3 linked regions of the Homo sapiens genome follow. The protein of the gene in region 1 interacts with the protein of each later gene in a biochemical or structural test. Each region holds a gene or a part of one and is shown on either strand. Other genes may lie near its edges.

Region 1 (5,897 bases):
AGAGTTGTAAGAACTACCTCTACTGAGTTCTGCTCTGTGCCAAAGTGACCCAAGGCCCAAAGGGCCTGAACTGCTTTGCCCTTTCTCCATGACCCAACAGTTGTAAATTGAGAAATTGGAAAATCGGAGATTACATACAACACTCCTCAAATCCATGTTGACTTCTTGAGTCTTAAAAAGATACTTCCTAATCACTGTGCAAGACAAGTACTTGACTAGACTCTGACCTTGCTCAAGTTCAAAAGCTTTTGGGTCTCCAGAACTTCTCTCCTGAAAGCTACACTTACTTGCAAAGTTAACAGAAGAATTGAGATATTCTAAATTGATCCTAATAAATATTGGTCACCAGACTGGAAAATTCTGGTTAAGAAAAAATATTTTACTGAATTATCTGCATAATTATTCTGGTTCACCTGATTTCTTTTGCCAGAATAGATTTAGGCTGTTTAAAATTCAGATATTGAATAAGTGACCTATCCCAAATTAATCTCCAACTGTGTATGTTATGTTGCTGTTTAGTCATTATTTTTTCTGACCCAAAAAGAAGACAAAATTCTGTTCATTTACATGGTTTATTGTTGTAAACATTAAAATTGTCTTTCTCAAAGAAAGAATTTATCAGAAAAAAAATCAGCATCTCTAACTGTCATACACCATAGAAAAAAAGGCAGTGACTCATATCATGTGCCATACTAGAAATATACAAAGAAAAATACTACAGAATATGGCAATATTAAAATTCTTACTCAAACAAAATAATAAATTAACTGACAATTTTAGACATAAAAAAAATTCAAAGTGCTCAGTTATTTCCAGGGAGTTATGTATATTATAAGCACTCTGGAAACAGTCAAAAGCTGCTGCATGCAAGTTTTGTTTAGCTTTAGACAACAAAATAATCAAGATATAAACTTTCTTTTTATCAACATCAACGGTACATACAACACTTACAAACAAGGAATGTTGGACGGTGTTACAAACACTATGTGTCCCTTTTGTCAGGATTTTCTGATGTGTAATACTTGTGCCCACCTATTTTACAATTGAGAAAATGTTTAAGCTCAGATAACTACCAATCTTTATAAAATCTAACAGACTACATAGTGTCTGAAATACTATTTATATAATATAGACATTACTGAAGTAGCAAGTGCCTATAACATTTTCAACCTAGAATCAACATGCTTGTCCCTTTTTTATGTATTTATTTTCTTTTTTTTTGCAAACACACTTATCTTTTAGAATTTGTAATATTTATTCATAAATAGGCACAAAATAATTTAAAAAGCCAAACTGCATTGGGTAAATTTACAAGCCTTTGCCTTCTTCAACTCATGCCACCCACGCAACATTTAGTTTTACTATATATTACAGCTTTCTTTACAGCAGAAAACTTTGAAGTCTTGTTAAAGGGCAATACTTGTGGGTCCCCTTAAGATGTGTCTCTGTGTGTGTGTGTGTGTGTGTATGTGTGTGTGTGTTACATTTGTCTGAACTGCAACAACCAAGCATGGCCAAACATTTCCCATTATACATTATAGCAATCTTTCTTCTGAACAACAAACTGATTTTTAAACTGAGAATAAAAAGTTTATACCACTGTATTGTGTGTAGTCCATGTTCTAAATCCAGGATGCCCCGGAGCCAAAATGCCCTTTCAGGTTCTGCCTGCAGGTTAGGAAATAGCAACAGTTTTTGTTTGTTTGTTTGTTTTCTTTAGGGATCAAGGGGGCTAGGAGGGTTACAGAAATGGGGGGCAGCTTGAGCTGAGACTGCTCACACGGCTATCTCTGCCCATGTGACTTGCCCCCTCTTGACAGTTTCCATTATCATTCCAGTTCCTTTGAAGTGCTTGGGAGGAGGTCTTAGAAAGGTAAAGTGTCCAGGAAAAGTTTGTCAATTATTGCTGGCGGTGGCACCAAGTCTTCCAATTTCAGGTAGAAAATGCGCTGTAGCCCCTGTGTGCAAAGGGTACGAAGTTCTGGGAGCTTCCCCAACAGTTTGGACAAATAATTGGGGCGGTTCAACCCCCCATTGTTGAAAGTCACGTGGTCTTTGAGACAATTTACAATCTTGTTTTGCAGTTCTTCCACTCTCTTGGGTTCCTTGAGCCCGTGTCTCTCTGCAGAAAACATAATCAGAAACAAAAGAAGAATGTACAAGACAGTTAGCTAGTTGGCAAAACCAAGGAGAATCTGTGACAAGGGAAACTCAGGACAAATCCTGCTAGGCAGTTCTGGAGGGGAAGCGCCCTGCGCCTGCAGTACTGACCTGTGACCATAGCCAGGGCAGCAATGCAGGAGAAGGCAGAAATGTCGATGTTCATATTCTGCAAGTTGGAGGAGAATTCAACAATGGAATCAATCCATTCCCCAAAGCCACGAACGCATTGCAACCTGTGCAAGACCACCCCATTGCAAAAGATGAGTTTACCCTCCACTGGGTTGGACCTGCAATTAATACCAAAGAGAGAGAGGGGAGAAAAAGAGAGAGAGAAAAGCTAAACAACTAATTACTTGAAGAGCAATAAATGAGGGATTTAAGAGTCACCTAATTACTGAAGAGTTAATAAAATGTAGACCAGTGGACCTTGAAAGGGTTTAATTTCATAACAATCAAGAACGCCCCCTATCCCACCTCCATTCCATTCATCCAAGGCTTCTGGGCTCGCTTCTTCTCGTCTTTTTTTGTTTTCTTTCTTTTTCTTCCTTTCTCCGACTTCCATTTCCTATTCTGTCTTTTTCTCTACCCCACCCTCTGGTTTCCCTTCCTCCCTTTCTTTTCCTTTCTTGATTTCTCTCACAGCCTCCCTGGATTGTCTCCCTCCCTCCCTTATTACCTGTATGCTAATCGAAGGACAAACAGTTCTAAGAAAGCTGATTCAAAAAGCAGGTCTTGGTCGGCTTTGGGCAGGTCTGCGAAGCCAGGGATCTTCTCTGCCCAGCCCCGGATGATCTCCATGGAGCCAGTCAGGAGATCATAGAATTGCTGGATATGCTGGGTGTCATCTCCACTCATTTGATAGTCAGGGTTCGCCTGGAACTGGAATTTCATTTTAAAAAGCACTTAATGAGGTTCTCTAAAATATATAACCCGTGAAATTGCTAACCCCGTTTCTAATAGGGGAGCCAGGTTTTTATAACAATTAAACCTCTCTCTGACCAGTAAGGAAATTAGATGTTCCGGGGCAATTAATTCAATTAGGGATGGTGCTACGAGGTCGCTGCTTTAAATATGTAAATTGCCATTTCCATACAGACTAAATACAGTGCCATCCAGCCCTGGGAAACGTTCACTCTTATCTCCACAAAACAATTGACATGTTAGTATTCATGCTAGTCCCAGAGTGGGCCTCGAGCTGAGACGCCCTTTTGCAAATCTTAATAAAATTGCAGTCCCTACCAGGTTTGCTCAACATACTTCCTCCAATTAAAGCCCGCATATTTTTCACAGCTGGAGTAAAAAGGATCTGACCACTTGATCCCCCACCCCACTGGCATTCTTTACACCCTCTCCTTCCCTTCCCTGACCCCCAGACAGGCCCCCACATCCTTCCCCAGCACAGTGCCAGGAAGGATGAGGATTAAAGCATCTATCTCTATGGAGGACTGGGAATAAAGTAGATTGGGAAGGGGGAGAGTTTGCACAGCCCCTGGATTTCATGGTAGAGGCACTGGTGTATATGGAAGAGGAGGGGCGATGGGGTAGTGGGGTAGTGGGAATTCACACAGCTTCAAACCCTGTGGCGTGTCCCTCTCCTCCTTCCTCCATCCTGTCCTCATGTCTATGCCCCCAGCTACATGGATTGTCTGAAGATCTGAATCTTGAGGCCCTGGCCAGAGCTGCGAGGCATATACAGCCTTGCTTGCCTTCTTTACCCCCGTTGAATCTGAGAGTTAATGACGGATGTGGGGAGGGGTCCTGCCCATCTGTCGGTTTGTCCACATGATATCCCCCCCGCCAGCTTCTTACCCTGGAATAGTCCAGGCTGGTCATAGCCGGGTTGGAGTCGACATGGGCCCTGACGAGGGCACTGATCAGACTCACCGGGGGCGAAGGGGGAGAGGGCTCCTGTGGGCTCTTCGGTTTCGAGGGCAAACGACCTCTCCGGCCTTTTAAACTGTCTGTGCGAACCACTGCAAAGGAAGAGCCCTGTTAGCGCCGCTTTTCCGAGCCCAGGCCCAGCTGCTGCCTCGGTCCCTCCCCGGGGAAGGCCGCAGCCGCGGGGCACCAGGCTGAGCGGCTGAGGGCCCCAGTGCTTGTAAAGCCTTCACTGACTAGAAGCATTAAAAAATGCGGGGTTATTTTATGTCTTCCTCCAAATGGGTCGTATAGTTAAAGGAGAGAAGGGCCTGGCGGCTTTCTCTAGGGAAGGCCGGGCAAGCAGGCAGCTGCAGGGTCCTGGAGGCCATACTGAGGGGGAGTCGGAGATCCCCAGCACCGGGAAGTGGAACGTGATGCTGGAGTATGAGCAGTGGTTTCCTAAAGGCGCAAACTGGAGGGTCGGCAGCTCCCCTCAGCCTACCTTCTTTGACCATCCCAACAGCCAGGCACTTCTGAAATCGGCAGTACTGACAGCGATTCCGGCGACGCTTGTCCACTGGGCAGTTTTTATTTGCTAAACACACGTATTTTGCATTTTTTTGCACTGTGCGCTGCAAAAGGAGACAATATAGACCAACATTTTTTTTCTTCTTTTGAAAATCAGGCAACTCGGAGAAAATTTCTGTTATGTGACTGGGGTCTACGATTCCTCCCCACAAACAAACACATACACACAATTCCATTTTATTTTTTTCTCTTCCTTTTCTTTCTTTCTTTTCTTTTTTCCTCCCCCAGGGCATTTAACAGAAGAAAATTGATAGCGTTAACATTTGAGCTAACCTTGCCGCTCCTTGCTGTGTTTTATATGCCAAGAGAAGGAGAAGGAGACGCTCAGTAAATACAAATCCGTGGGCATTCATATTATTTACATTCCTTGGAGACCTTCTCTATTTAAAATGATAAGATTATTCAATCAGGATGGCGAAATAAAGAGATCACTTAATTTGACCATAGGGAATTCTGTTCCACTTGGTTAGCTCAGACACGGTTCTCTGTCCTAACCAATTTCATTCTGAACAGGGAAGACAGCTCCTAGCACATGCAAATGACCCTCTTCCAACTCCGGCTCCAGCAACTTCGGGCGGGGGCCAGCCGGGTCGGCTGAATGCGAGGGGGATGCGACCCTGGCCTCCCAGTCTTTCTGCTTCCCTTTCTCAGACACCCGGAAGTCCCCGCCGCAGCCCATGGTCTCCTGCAGGGCAGCTTCGGCGGACCCCGGAGAGCTGGGCAGTCCCGGGAGAGCTGGGGCTGGGCTACTGGCACCAAGGCAGAGGGCACACTCCGAGGTCCCGGGCACTAGGGGCTCCCTACCTGCCTACTCCGCTCCCGCCATTGCTCACCTTAAAGAAGCCTTTGCAGCCCTCACAGGTGCGCACGCCGTAGTGTTGGCAGGCCGCGTTGTCCCCACACACAGCGCACAGCCCCTCGTTGGAGGGGGAGCCCCGCGACGGCGGTGAGGGCACCTGCGTGTCGAGCAGCTGAGACGCGTGGCCGATCTGCAGGCCCGGGAAGCCCATGGACGCGGGCTTGCGAATGGGGTTGGGCACAGCGAAGGTCTGCCCGTCCACCACGTGGTGGCTGCCGGCGGGCTCCGGGTTCATGGGGACGTGCAGGGGCCCGTCGAAGCGCATCTGGCAACTAGACACCGGGGTGCCAGGGGGCGATTGCTTAAAGGAGAAGAGGGAGAGGCGGGAGACTGGCGTTTTCCTCTGCTCGATCATGTGCGTAGTGGCCACGTAGTTCTGGTGGAAGTTGTGGAGAGATCCCGGGTCGTCCCACATGGGGCTGTGCTG
Region 2 (7,112 bases), on another chromosome or scaffold:
CTGTCTTCTTGATCATACCTTCTTCTCAAGTAATGAAATCTCTCTCTCTGCCTTTAGCCTCCTGTTGCCCACTTCCTGTGTCTTCATGATTACTTCTGCTATCACCCACTGCTAAAAATCTCACACTCATTACCTTCCTTACCGATACATAATGTTTTCTTCCCTATCATGAGTAGAACTTGGGTGTCAACTTGGAAATGAACATCTCTCCCTCATCCTACAAACCCATTAATTTGCCATGATATCAATCCAATGCCCAGATGTTTGATGATCCAGTTTCTTGCTCTCCATTCTCCGTGGTCTCCGCTATCATTTGTCCCTTCTACATCTGTCACCTGGGCTCCTTTGGTGGCTTCTCAACTCCTCTTTCTTATATCACGTCTTCTCCCCTCTTATCCACCCAACTATTGCAACACCAGAATGCTGTACACAAAGCAAAGATCTGCTCACATTCCTGATCACAAACTTCTAGTCTTCCCATTGCCTCTAGAATAACATCCCAATTCCTGGCCTCACTTCTGAGACTCTTACACAATACCAGCTTGGGTTTTTATTAGCTTTAGATCCCATATTTGTGTACTTGTTACAGACCGTTTGTTGTTCATCCTTGCCTCTTGTGCCTTTCTCCCAGCTGGGAACATTCTCTGCCCAGAATTCCCAGTGGGTAAACTGCCCATGGCTTCGCTAAAATTTCACTGCGCTTTTGAAAAGTGCTTGCATCCTTAGGCTTCATGGTTTCTCCTCTGTGTTCAGCTGAACCTCCATTCTCTGAAGTAGTATTTTGGTGCATGGATCTTGTCTCTGGTTTTATACATGTCTGTCTCCCATGAGATTATGAATGCCCTGAGAGTAGAGGTGGTGCTTTGTTTTTTTACTTGAATCTCAATAAGGCCAAATACCGGGCCTTGTAAAGAGGAGACACCTTGTACTTGCCAAGATAATACTGTTGTTTTCCACACTGAAATTTGGGGTTGTAAAATGTGCAGCTTATAGGTACTCTGGCTTGGGCTTCTTTTTTGAGACGGAGTTTCGCTCTTGTTGCCCAGGCTGGAGTACGATGGCGCGATCTCGGCTCACTGTAACTTCCACCTCCCAGGTTCAAGCGATTCTGCTGCCTCAGCCTCCCGAGTAGCTAGGACTACAAGCATGCGCCACCACACCCAGCTCATTTTGTATTTTTAGTAGAGATGGGGTTTCTCCATGTTGGTCAGGCTAGTCTCGAACTCCCGACCTTAGGTGATCCGCCTGCCTCAGCCTCCCAAAGTGCTGGGATTACAGGCGTGAGCCACGGTGCCCGGCCTGGGCTTCCTTCTAAGGGGCAGAGCTGTTTGATCCTGACCCCACCTTAACAGTATTAGCAGGTTCTTTTGCACTCCATCCCAGCTGCACTTAGAGATGAGACATGTTGCTCTGAAATGGTGGGGCTTTGGACCAGCTGTTCCGAGCTGGGATTACCACTGCTTTGATATTATGGTCATCTGCAAGCTGTTTCAGCTCCTGGAAGGGGGCCATCAAGGTGAAGTCACACCTGTCTGGGCTCTGTTTATTCTTTTCAGTCTACCTCAGAGGTGGGGACAGCTTTTAGTAACTGATGTATTACATTATCTGGCTCTTTTTGTGAGACAAAAGAAACAGTGTTTTGTATTGCTTTGTGTGGGGAAGGGTAGGATTGCATTTTGGTCTTAATTTCTGTTGCCTTTGGTATCTTGTCCAAACTGTCTGTGGCCTGGCAGAAGGAGGCATGAGGCATGCTGTTGAAACTTGGTTTTTCATTTTTATGAAAAACTCTCCTGGCTTACATTCAGGTTCCCTCCCTGAATTATCATACGTTATACATATGTAGTCTGTGAAGAGAAGTTTCCTGATCCCTGTGGGATTTGAGCCCTTCTTAGGACCACTTTGGGCTAAAACTGTGTTCCCTACATTATTTTTTCTACCCACAGGAACTATACTGAAGAGTCTGCTTCTGAGGACAGTGAAGATGATGAGAGTGATGAAGAGGAGGAGGAGGAAGAAGAGGAGGAGGAGGAAGAAGATTATGAGGTGGCTGGTTTGCGATGTAAGTATTTTGTCTGCCTTTGTAGTTGATTTCACAGTCTTCTAAGCTTGGAACGCTTGGAAAGGCTGGCTTGGCAGTAGGTAGTGTGGCCGGCTTGCCCTATTCCTTTTCTCTTGTGTTGTGACTGTGGCGTAACTTAGCTGCCATGGGTTTAAATGGGTTTCCAAGATGGCGTTTAACTTCCTGCCTGGTGGGAGAGAAGGTGGCTTGATCTCAGTAACATCAACCCACTTGCTCTAAGATTTAGTAGAATTCATGGTCCCAAGTATATTTATGCCAAGGCTGCTGATTCTCAGCTCCTCGGCATATGGGGACAATGGGGAAGGAAGATCTTGGCCCATTGCCATCTCCTGACAGTTCTTTTGGCTGTTGTTTTATCGCTGCTTTCAGAGAGTGACTTTTTCTGTCTGGTTACAGTGATTTTCTCCTCCCTGCAGTGTGCAGGGTTATAGCTTTGCTGGTTTGAAAAGAGACGACTGATTATTTGAAGGCTTAGGTGGAAGGATGTTAGGAAGATTCAGATCTGTTCTCACTAGATGCCAGTAGGAAAAAAGGCATCATCTTTTGTGTTCACCGCATTGACTCTCATTCTCTCATGTTCATTTCTCATGAGTGTTGGAGAGTCTGGTGTTTGTGGCTAATGTCCTCCAGTCTAGCCTTTCTTTTAGCAGCCTCCCTCTTTCCAAAATACACTTTTTTTTTTTTTTTTTTTTTTTTGAGATGGTCTCACTGTCGCCTGGGCTGGAGTGCAGTGGTATGACCTCAGATTACCTCAGTCTCTGCCTCAGCCTCCCGAGTATACAGACACCCACCACCACACCTGGCTGATTTTTGTATTTTTAGTAGAGATGGAGTTTCACCATGTTGGCCAGGCTGGTCTCGAACTCCTGAGCTCAAGTGATCTGCCTGCCTTGGCCTCCCAAAGTGCTGGGATTACAGGCATAAGCCACTATGCCCGGCCAATACACTTTTCTTTACAGGTTCGTAGAAAACAGACCACAGATCAAAATTCTAATGAGCTTTTGAAGCAGTGGTACAGTTCCCAAGATCATAGCAGCTCTGAATGGTCATACTTGGTATAAGGAGTGAGAGAGAGGATGCCTGGCATGACTAGTCTCTTACTGTAGTGAGACTGCCAAAACCTAATGATTTGGGCTTGCCCGTCTTCTCCTGTCCTCCCACTTTCCCCCCCATACTTCAGAGGTGTGATGTGGGACACCTTAAGCTCTCACATACGTATGGGCTCTTTTTGTTTGTTCACTACGCCTGATTTTTCAGGTATCCTAGGGTAAGTGAACAAATGGCCCATCAGTCCTGCATTCAGGAATATCCTCTTCTGTTGGTCAGAGTCAGTGACTTGGGCACACCTTTGTTTGGGAACATATTTTTTTTGGCGGAGCGGGGGATGGGTATCTTTCTCTGTTGCCCAGGCTAGAGTGCACTGGTATGATCACTGCTCACTGTATCCTCGATCTCTCAGGCTTAAGCAATCCTCCTTACCTCAGCCTCCTGAGCAGCTGGGACTACAGGCACGTGCCACCATGCCCGGCTTTTTTGTAGAGATAGGGTCTTGCCATGTTTCCCAGGCTGGTCTTGAACTCTTGGGTTCAAGTGATCCTCCTGCCTTGGCCTCCCGAAGTGCTGGGATTACAAGTGTGAGCCACTGCGCCTGATCTCTCTGAGGGCAGATCCTGAATATGGTAGTATACTGATTCTGTTTATTTGTAAGCTAGTGATTGCTTTCCACTTCTACGTTGTAGCTCTCTTTCCAAGGAATTGCTTTTCTAAGTTTTTACGGCCTCGACTTGCCAAAAGGATCTGGGAAGTATTTGGTACTTCAGAGCTTTTTGTCAACTCTATCTTTCAGACCACCAAAGATGTGGTTCCCCAGTGCAGCTCAAGGTTCTAGCACCTAAGCATCAGATTCTTACCCTTTCTTACTAGCCTGGGCTTGAGCTAGAGACGCTAAAGTAGCCAAGAAAGGGTTATCGTGATCCAGAAATAGAATGGAAAGTAGTGTTTCTGGATTATTCGTGTCACTGCCTTCCTAGACCTCTGTGTCCAGTGTCATCTCCCCACTCCCCAAGGGAAGGTGGTGGAGAGCCTGGAGCTAAATCCTCATGGCATTGTTTCCCAGGGCTCACTGAGGAATGCCAGTTGGCTTGATGGTGAGCACCTGTTGTAAACCTGAGACACAAGTAGTCTCAGTGCCTTTGTGTGTGTGTGTGTGTGTGTTTTTTTTCTTTTGTGAGATGGAGTTACACCCTTGTTTCCCAGGCTGGAGTGCAGTGGCGTGATCTCGGCTCACTGCAACCTCCGCCTCCCAGGTTCAAGCGATTTTCCTGCCTCAGCCTCCTGAGTAGCTGGGATTACCAGCATGTGCCACCACGCCCTGCTAATTTTGTATTTTTAGTAGAGACGGGGTTTCACCATGTTGGTCAGGCTGGTCTTGAACTCCCGACCTCAGGTGATCCACCTGCCTCAGCCTCCTAAAGTGGTGGGATTACATGTGTGAGCCACAACGCCCGGCCTATATTCTTTATTCTCTCATTGGGGATCCTGGGCAGGGCTCTTATGGAGGGGACTAGCCCTAAATTGTATTTAATGAGGAGCCTTGTGGCCCTTCATGGAAGTACCAGCTTTTCTCTGGAAAGATTCTGATGGTAAGTGTAGAATAACTCTGGGAATTACAACATAGGGTTTGTTTTACAATCCAGTTCCATCTTACATGTAAATACATCCACTCGCTCAGGCTGAGCTTGGGCTGTGGGAAATCCAGGCTGACCTATTAGCAAATGGCTTCTCATGAGTGAGAGTTTACAGTTGATTCCTGCAGGGGCCTTATGGCTGGGAGTAACTGCAGGACGGGGCAGGACAGAAGTACTGAAGGACCTAGCCCTCTGAAGGGCTTTGGCAGTGGATGAAAGGCACCCATTCTTCATCGGCTGCCACTGCCTTTTAGTGTCCTGTTAGGTAAGGCAAGATAAAATAGCAAGAGCACCTTAAAACCAAAGGAGGCCACTGCTTTCCTTGTCCAGGAAAAGGATTCTCCCTGCATCCCTTTCCCCCATTTCGAAGATGCTCCTCCCTTCACCTTCCGTTGTTCTCTGCTGAATCCATAGTTTTTCTTTCAGTGAGACCTCGAAAGACCATCCGGGGCAAGCACAGCGTCATCCCCCCTGCAGCAAGGTCAGGCCGGCGCCCGGGTAAGAAGCCACACTCTACCAGGAGGTCTCAGCCCAAGGCACCACCTGTGGATGATGCTGAGGTGGATGAGCTGGTGAGAATTATTTATCATCCCTTCTCTAACCTTTCTGTTTCTTATTCCCTACCCCAGCAATTAGGAATTCATCAGGCAACAGGTGGGAGGGGAGCCTCCCCCCTCCTCCTTCTTACCAAACTTGGGAGGCTGGGGAGGCAGATGGGTGAGCCTGTACGCAGACAGAAGCAGCAAGGCCTCCAGGAACAGCTATGTCCGGCATTCCCCTGCTGTAGCCTGCAAACTAGTTAGCGGGCAGCCTGCAACTTATTAAGGATTTAAAAATAGTATCCATGTGTCTCCAGTGGGCTCAGAGGGGCTGGGTCTTCATTGTGGGAATGTCAGCAATGCTGGAGCCTCACTTACTGTTGAGTCGACAGTTGTTATGGGAGGGACATTACCCTCCCCTCTGCTCCTTAACCAATGTAATTTTAGTAGTTTTTAGATCTCACTTGAGCTTTAAAGAACAAAAAAGAAACTCTTGAAAAGGTGCTTGTTTTGACAGATCAAATTGGAGTTAGGGGCTTAAGGCAGGCCATTTGGGAGATCATAAGGCATTAGAAGATGCTCGGTTTGCCACAGCCTTGGGCTCTGTGGCCTCTGCTGTGAATCACAGCTTTTGTTATGGCTACCTGGAATGGAGGCCCCGCCCCTTTTCTCTTTAGCCACTTAACCCTCACATGTCTACGGTGGAAGAGCCCAGGAAGGGAATTGGACCTCTTGCTTTTCTTACCAGAGGCACCCCACCCCCACAGAATTGGCTGCTGTTGGCCCAGATAGCATGTTTTGCTTTCTGCAGTGGCTTGTTGATGCCCTTCCATGGTGTCACTGTAACCCCAGGTCCACCTGTTCTCTGAGAGCTAGTGTCCTGTTGACAGTAGCCCCCTTCAGCCGACCTCCAGCAGGACTGCTGGTAAAGGCGGCCCCCGCTGCCTGCTCTTTGCTGCTTTGATTGCCGTGGCCCCGGGGGAGGCGAGTGAGTGGACTACTGGGAAGATGCCTGCCACCTGGGCCGAGGGTGCTCCCTGACTTGAATATCAGAAGGTTTCAGCACCTCTGCGCCAAGGAAATAGTTGAACTCTCTTCCTTTTTTGAGCAGATACACTTATTTTCTGCCCTGTCCATTCTTCCTCCTGTCTTGAATCTGTAATAACATTGTTCTTTCTTTCCTGCCAGGTGCTTCAGACCAAGCGGAGCTCCCGGAGGCAAAGCCTGGAGCTGCAGAAGTGTGAAGAGATCCTCCACAAGATCGTGAAGTACCGCTTCAGCTGGCCCTTCAGGTGAGTGCTGTGTTCTCAGGTGCAGGGGAGAGGAGTGGCCTGGCTGGTTCTAAAAGCTTCCAGAGCCCCTGAGGGGCTCTCAGCCAAGCCCTTGCTTTTCAGGACGTGTCTCAGTGGCAGGGGCACTGCCGTCAAGGCTGTGCAGATTCTCCATTTGGTTCTTCTCCACAGGGAGCCTGTGACCAGAGATGAGGCCGAGGACTACTATGATGTGATCACGCACCCCATGGACTTTCAGACAGTGCAGAACAAATGTTCCTGTGGGAGCTACCGCTCTGTGCAGGAGTTTCTTACTGACATGAAGCAAGTGTTTACCAATGCTGAGGTTTACAACTGCCGTGGCAGCCATGTGCTAAGCTGCATGGTGAAGACAGAACAGTGTCTAGTGGCTCTGTTGCATAAACACCTTCCTGGCCACCCATATGTCCGCAGGAAGCGCAAGAAGTTTCCTGATAGGCTTGCTGAAGATGAAGGGGACAGTGAGCCAGAGGCCGTTGGACAGTCCAGGGGACGA
Region 3 (7,635 bases), on another chromosome or scaffold:
CTTTTGTGCATAAAAGGACACTATTAAGAAAGTGAAAGAGAACCTATAGAATGGGAGGAAATATCTACAAACCATATATCAAATAAGGAACTAATATCCAGAATATATAAGAACTATTACAACTCAACAACAAAAAGCCAAACAACCTAATTAAAAAATGGGTAAGGATATGCAGAAGATTGAGACTGGATCCCTGCTTCCTTACAACATATACAAAAATCAACTCAAGATGGATTAAAGACTTAAATGTAAAACCCAAAACTATAAAAACCCTGGAAGACAACCTAGACAACACCATCCTGGACATAGAAATGGGCACAGGTGTCATGACAAAGACACCAAAAGCAATTGCATCAAGAGCAAAAATTGACAAACGAGATTTAATTAAACATAGGAGCTTGTGTATGGCAAAAGAAACTATCAACAGAATAAACAGACAACCTACAGAATGGGAGAAAATATTAGCAAACTATGCATCTGACAAAGGTCTAATATCGAGCAAGTATAAGGGACTTAAACAAATTTGCAAGAGGAAAAACAACCCCATTAAAAAGTGGGCAAAGGACATGAACAGACACTTCAAAAGAAGACATACATGCAAGCTCAATATCACTGTGGAAAGCAGTGTGTCGATTCCCGTAAGAGTTAAAAACAGAACTACCATTTGACCCAGCAATTCCATTACTGGGTATACACCCAGAGGAATGTAAATCATTCTACCATAAAGGCATATACACACGAATGTTCACTGCAGCACTATTCACAATAGCAAAGACATGGAATCAACCTAAATGTCCATCAATGACAGATTGGATAAAGAAAATATAGTACATATACATCACGGAATACTATGCAACCATAAAAAAAGAACAAGATCATGTATTTTGCAGGAATATGGATGGAGCTGGAGGCTATTATCCTCAGCAAACTAATGCAGGAACAGAAAACCAAATACCAGATGTTCTCACTTACAAGTGGGAGCTAAATGATGAGAACTCCTGAACACAAAGAAGGGAACAATAGATATTGGGACCTACTTGAGGGTGGAGGATGGGAGGAGGATGAGGATTAAAAAACTACATATTAGGTACTATGATTATTATTTGGCTGATGAAATAAAGTGTATACCAAGCCCCTGTGACATGCAATTTACCTATGAAACAAACCTGCACATGTGTCCCCAAACCTAACATAAAATTTAAAAAATAAAAAATAAAAATTGGCAAAGCACTTGAATAGATATTTCTCCAAAGGAAATATACGAATATCCAACAAACCCAAGAAAAGATACTCAACATCATGGGTCATTAAGAAAATGCAAATCAAAACCACTTCTCTCCCACTAGGATGATAAACATAAAAAATAGAAATTAACAATTGTTTGCAAGGATATGGTAAAATTGGAGTCTTGCTGATAGGAATGCAAAATGTTGCAGTTACTGTGGAACACAGTTTGGCGGTTTCTCAAAAATTTAAACATAGAATTACCATATGACCCAATGATTACACTCCTAGCTATATATGCAAGAGAAGTAAAGACATACACCCACACAAAAACTTATACATAATTGTTTATGGTAGCATTATTTATAACAGCCAAAAGGCAAAAACAATCCAAATATCTATCAACATACAAATGGATAAACAGAGTGTGGTATGCACATAAAATGAAATATTAATTCATAAAAAGGAATGAAGTATTGCACATGCTACAATGTAGATGAACCTTGAAAACATTATGCTAAGTGAAAGAAGCCAGACACAAAAGGTCACATATTGTACAATTCCATTTATGGGAAATATCTAGAATAGGTAAGTTCATAAAGATGGAAAGCAGATAAGTCATTGCTAGGGACTAGGGGGAAAAGGGAATTGAGAATGACTGCTTAATGGGTATGGGGTCTCTTTTCAGATTGATGAAACTGTTTTGGAACTAAATAGAGGGGATGGTTACACAATATTTTGAGTGTACTATACATGTCACTGAACTGTACACTTTAAAATGGTTAATTCTATGTTATGTGAATTTCTCTTTTAAATAGAGAATAAAGATAGCACGATTTGAAAAAAATGTATACAGAAGTATATTCTTTGGGTCAATGGCCTTCATCTTTTTAATATTACATACCCCTTTGAACATCTAATGAGAGCAACGGAACCTATTCTCAGCAAATGTGCACATACAATAAAAATGTATATATCCAGCCTGGGTGCGGCAGCTCATGCCTGTAATCCCAGTGCTTCGGGAGGCTGAGGCAGGGGGCTCACTTGAGGTCAAGAATTGGAGACCAACCTGGGCAATGTAGGGAGACACTGTCTGTACAAAAATTTAAAGAAATTAGCTGGGAGTTGTGGCGTGCACCAGTAGTCCCAGTTACTCAGAAGGCTGAGGTGAGAAGATCCCTTTAGCCCAGGAGTTGAAGGCTACAGTGAACTATAAATGCACCACTGGACTCTAGTCTGGACAACAGAGTGAAACCACGACCACACACACACACACACACACACACACACACACAAGTTTGAACATAATTTTAGGGGATTCATAGTTTAATAATGCCTGAACCCAAGGAATAGATGAGCTCTCTTTAACATGGCTCAGCTGCTATTTGTGTCTTCCCCTTCTTATCTCTTTGTCAAGTAGCTTCTTCTTTCTGTCCTTTATGGTTTCCTCTTTTTCATGATGTCAACTTGCTTATATAAAATAAAAACATACATCCACACAAAAACTTATACGTGATTGTATATGGCAGCATTATTTATAACAGCTAAAAGATGAAAATGCCTAAATATTCATCAACATATGATGGATAAACAGAATGGGGTGTGCAAATAGAACAAAACACTATTCAGGCTCCTAGGGTACAGATCTTCTTCTCACAAGAGTGTGCATACTCCACTACTTCCTAAACATATGCAATTTTACATGCCCTTTCAGGTGGCCCACAGACTTCATCAATTGGGAATACTTGGTCTAGGTCAATATGGACAGCATGGCAGAACTCCTTAGACACTGGCCTAAATTTGCTGAGACAGTCATAGGTTAGTATGGACTGGCAGGCAGCAATCCTGCAGCAAGGTTAGGCTCCCTCTGGGTTCCCTGAAGATACAGAGTTTGGGGGTGAGAGGCCCGCCAGACTGCACTTTTTAGGCTAGGCGGGAGGTAACAGACAGGGTCTAGGGAGGCTTCCACTCAGGCACTGTGAATAAGGGCAGAGAGCAGGCAGGTTGCAGGGGACTCTACCCCAGCAATCACTTCAGGCCTCATGAACACCCTCAGCTGCAAGGGTCTAGAAGAGATCTGTTCTAGTTTTCTAGAGGCATGAACAATGCTCCACTCTGTGCTGGGGCTGGGTTATCCCTGTGGGAATTAGGGGGAGGGAGGAGGGAAGGAGCCAAAGGCATTTACTCATATCACCACCTTGGTCACCTGTCCAGTTATATTCTTGGACAGATGACTCTTGAGCAACAGAGTCATGTGCCTGGGGATGAGAAATGCAGGGGATGAGAAATTCTAGAATATGAGGGGGTGGAGAAGAACACCTTCCCCTGATCTTGGCAGGGCAGGGAGGATAGGACCATTTCTGCATCCTTCACATCTCCTGCAGCCTTGGTCTCACAGCTCTTCCCTTCCCCTAGAGCTAAACATTTGAATGAAAATAGCCATGAGCCAAATTTTTTAAAGAGACATTTTTGAATTTTCTTTCAACCATCAGATTCCAGCAAGTCTATTTAGCACTCAGTAATCGTTTGGGAACATTAAATGTGTGTGTGTGTGTGTGTGTGTGTGTGTGTGTGTGTGTGTGTGTGTGTTAAATAGAACGTGAGAGAACCAGCTATTTATGAAAAATTTCTAATGTATATTTTGCTTGTTGCCAATTGAATTCCTTGTGTATATGGCAAAAGTTAATATTATGAACCTAATTTGGTCTCTCTTCTGAGTAGAAAATTTTGAAATCTTTTAAGTTTTTCTCTCTCTTAAACACTTTCTCATAAATGAAATAGCTTTATTTAATTTTGTGCTTATAAGAATAACCCATGCTGAGGAGAGTGAATTAAATAAGATCAAAAAAATTTAAAAAAATAAAACCCCTATTTTAACTACTTGTGTCCCTACTTGACAATCCACCTTGTACCCATTATGAGAAGGTCTGGTTCACAGGCAGAATGAACATCAGTGGCTGCGTGTAGAATTAGATCGAGTAGGTGCCTTCGGATAAAAGGAGAGAAAGAAAAAAAATTCCTCTGAGATGTACCAATGGCCAATAGCTCTAGAAGAAGGTGCGGTCCCTCCCTGATAACCACGGAAGAATAAATACATACTACACAGAGAAAGGGCCACATTTGACCTGTGGGATTAGCAAAGACCAAAATGAGTGACAGGGCCCCGTGCTGTGGGGCGAGAGAGAGAGCTAAGCCGGGGTTGGGGGTGCTGAGGGCGCTCAGACGGACAGACTAGTGAAGGGAAGAAGTGGGCTGGCTCCTGACGCACTTTCTGCGGGTGGGAGGGGAACTAGGGACCCGAGCCCACTGGTGACGTTTTTCTCACGTGATCTGAAGCCGACGTGTGCAGAAGTCCCTCTCCTCCAGGTACCAGATCCCTGTTTCCGTGGAGGAAGGCAGACTTCAGACTGAAGGACAGAGAAGGCAACTGCCCTACAGCCCTGCAGGTCGGTACAAGCCGGGGACCCCTGAGGTAGGGATGGTAATGCACATAGGCTACAGAGGATCGGATCTGCTTTCTAGATACCGCCCTGTTCCACCCCCATTCATTTTGGCGCAGAAATTTTTTTGTGTTGGGCAAGAGGTATGGGTACCAGCTTTTATTTCCCTGGAGAAGTGCAGGCTTCTGGCAGAAGGAAATGTGAGAAAGAGTCATTTCCCCGAGATGGCTACGAACCCATCCACAGCCTGTGGATCCCTGTGGTTGGGATGGCAGAGGGCAAAGACCAGAGCGGGTCCAGGACTGGATTCTCTCCACTCCTTTCCCGATGCTCACTCATTTGGTGCAAGAAATGGAGGGCTTGGTGCGGGGCGGGGAGGGGGGAGGGGGGCGGAACTCGAGAGAGGTCAAGGGTTGAGAATTGGGTACCAGTTGGGAACTCCTAGGAAGCCGGCGACCGGGTGATGTCTGATGGAGGAGGAGGAGGACCAGGGAAGAGAACAGCGACGAAACGGCGAGAAAACGGCCTGATCCCTGCAAGGCAGCGGGAGGCGGGCACAGTCAGTGACCCCAGGCTGCTGAGGGCGGACCCTGCAACGGGTCCAGGCCTGAGTTCCCTGTGTCTTTTCTCCAACCTCCCTCCATTTTGGAGCCGGAAACGGTGGGCTAAGGGGGTCAGGGGAAGGAGGTGCTGTAGAAAAAGGGAGACAGAGGTTTGATCTGGGGATCAGCTCCCTATCCAGGAGGAGTGGCTTCTGAAGTAGGAGGATTGAGATGAGGTAGCAGCAAGACCAAAAATGTTACCGGGTTTGGAAATAATTTGTCTCTTGCATTGCAGAAAAATGTGGGCTTTCTGTGTATGTGGGGAGGGAGGAGGTGGCAGGAGTGTTTTGGACATTTCTGCCCTGCCCCCTATCTCTGTCATCACCATTTTCAGAGAAGTGGTGGGCTCTGCTATTTGGCTACCCTAGGGTGAGGGATTTGGAATGTAGAGATCTGAGTGCATCAGAACACTCTGTCTTCAGAACATCCTTGTCTCTAACCCTACTCATTTTCGTGCCAGAAAAGTGAGATAAAAATTTGGGAGGAAGATTCAGAAACATAGAAACGCTTTGGAAATAATCTTTCTCGCCTATTTCCCACAAGTAGAACAATGGAGGCTCTTAAGAAAGAGCTGCGCGCGGAGGGGGAATCAGAGAATGCAAGGGAAAAGGCGAGGAGGTGATAGGAGCTCGGAAAGTTTTGACAAATACGGTCCCAAAGAACCAGTGTCCAAGTTACCAGTCATTCACTTTCTCAATTTCTCATTCACCCACCTGTTTCTTGTCTTTCTGCAGGTCTTCAAGTCTGTGGTTGTGGGCACTAACCCAGACAAGAAAAGGAAAGACCTGCAGTATCGGTGCAGGTCAGTGGGAGAGGGCTACTGCACCAGGACCCTTGGGAGTAGGAGTAACTTAAGCCAGAGCAGAAGTTGGGGAGGCCACTGCCTGCCACCCCTCCTCCAATCCTCCCTCTTGCAGTTTCGGGATACATGACTGCTGTCAAGACCCTAAGGGGATATGGTGATCTATGGCTGGTGAGGATAGAGGGGAGAATAAGAAAGTAAGAGAATGGAGGTGTAGCATCTGTGATGCCCCCTGAGGACATAAGGGTAGCCCTGAAATCTGAGAACTGGCTATGGTTCTGTTCTGTCTGCAGTTTTATAAGTCTTACAACTGCATGCAAGGGGAAAAAGAAGAAAACTGCCCAGGATTTCTGCAGGTCCGTGTAAATTGGAACTACCCAGTTAAAATTGGTATGGGTAGGCATAGCCAAGGCCAGAGCAAAGTTTAAGGGCCAATATGCTCCTACGCATTTCTCAGCACATCCTCCTTAAATGTAGGGAGAAGCACCTGTGGAAGTTTCTGTAAGGTTGGCTTGTGTGAACATGTGTAAAGTGAAAAGGAAAGGAAGGAATGTAAGGGTGGGAGTGCACCTGGAAGATGGGATAGGGCCAGGAAAACCCTAAGTTAAGAAAGACAAGTACTATAAGGACCTGTGTTCAACCCCCAAAGCCCTCAGTGTCCTGTGTCTTCTTTTTGTCTCCTAGGAAAGGCAAAGAAGGGAACATCTCAACATGGAAAAGCTCTACAAAGAAAATGAAGGAAAGCCAGAGAATGAAAGAAACCTAGAAAGTGAGGGAAAGCCAGAGGATGAGGGAAGTACAGAAGATGAAGGAAAGTCAGACGAGGAAGAAAAGCCGGACATGGAGGGGAAGACAGAATGCGAGGGAAAGCGAGAGGATGAGGGAGAGCCAGGTGATGAGGGACAACTGGAAGATGAGGGAAACCAGGAAAAGCAGGGCAAGTCTGAAGGTGAGGACAAGCCACAAAGTGAGGGCAAGCCAGCCTCCCAGGCCAAGCCAGAGAGCCAGCCGCGGGCCGCCGAAAAGCGCCCGGCTGAAGATTATGTGCCCCGGAAAGCAAAAAGAAAAACCGACAGGGGGACGGACGATTCCCCCAAGGACTCTCAGGAGGACTTACAAGAAAGGCATCTGAGCAGTGAGGAGATGATGAGAGAATGTGGAGATGTGTCAAGGGCTCAGGAGGAGCTAAGGAAAAAACAGAAAATGGGTGGTTTTCATTGGATGCAAAGAGATGTACAGGATCCATTCGCCCCAAGGGGCCAACGGGGTGTGAGGGGAGTGAGGGGCGGAGGTAGGGGCCAGAAAGACTTAGAAGATGTCCCATATGTTTAATGTCTTTGGCCTTTAATTCTGATTTCTCTGATGGGAATATTGCCAGTCCTGCTTTTCCTGGCAGGCATTTGCCGGCCTATGTGCTTTAACCTTAAGCTGATACTTTCCTTTAGGTGTCACTCTTGTTACCAGCAGACTTTTGACCCAACTACAGTGCTCTGTCTTTTAGTAGAGGATTTTCACCCATGTGCATGGAATAAATGTTCATGGTACATTGTAAAATAACAATAAAAAA

Evidence for each region.
Region 2: the proteins of NR4A2 (region 1) and BAZ1B form a complex in vitro, tested with the Homo sapiens proteins (one study listed by BioGRID).
Region 3: the proteins of NR4A2 (region 1) and TCEAL5 form a complex in vitro, tested with the Homo sapiens proteins (one study listed by BioGRID).

What each region holds. Positions count from the first base shown.
Region 1 is NC_000002.12:156,323,879-156,329,775, forward strand, and holds the end of NR4A2 (nuclear receptor subfamily 4 group A member 2), read right to left. Parts: coding exon 5,445-5,897; intron 4,656-5,444; coding exon 4,526-4,655; intron 4,137-4,525; coding exon 3,973-4,136; intron 3,043-3,972; coding exon 2,840-3,042; intron 2,451-2,839; coding exon 2,272-2,450; exon of another isoform or gene 2,269-2,271; intron 2,123-2,268; coding exon 1,866-2,122; 3' UTR 559-1,865; downstream 1-558. UniProt on the Homo sapiens protein: Transcriptional regulator which is important for the differentiation and maintenance of meso-diencephalic dopaminergic (mdDA) neurons during development.
Region 2 is NC_000007.14:73,442,211-73,449,322, reverse strand, and holds part of BAZ1B (tyrosine-protein kinase BAZ1B), read left to right. Parts: intron 1-1,943; coding exon 1,944-2,059; intron 2,060-5,193; coding exon 5,194-5,339; intron 5,340-6,494; coding exon 6,495-6,598; intron 6,599-6,769; coding exon 6,770-7,112. UniProt on the Homo sapiens protein: Atypical tyrosine-protein kinase that plays a central role in chromatin remodeling and acts as a transcription regulator. Involved in DNA damage response by phosphorylating 'Tyr-142' of histone H2AX (H2AXY142ph).
Region 3 is NC_000023.11:103,273,708-103,281,342, reverse strand, and holds the start of TCEAL5 (transcription elongation factor A protein-like 5), read left to right. Parts: upstream 1-4,592; 5' UTR 4,593-4,670; intron 4,671-6,000; 5' UTR 6,001-6,068; intron 6,069-6,752; 5' UTR 6,753-6,779; coding exon 6,780-7,400; 3' UTR 7,401-7,635. UniProt on the Homo sapiens protein: May be involved in transcriptional regulation.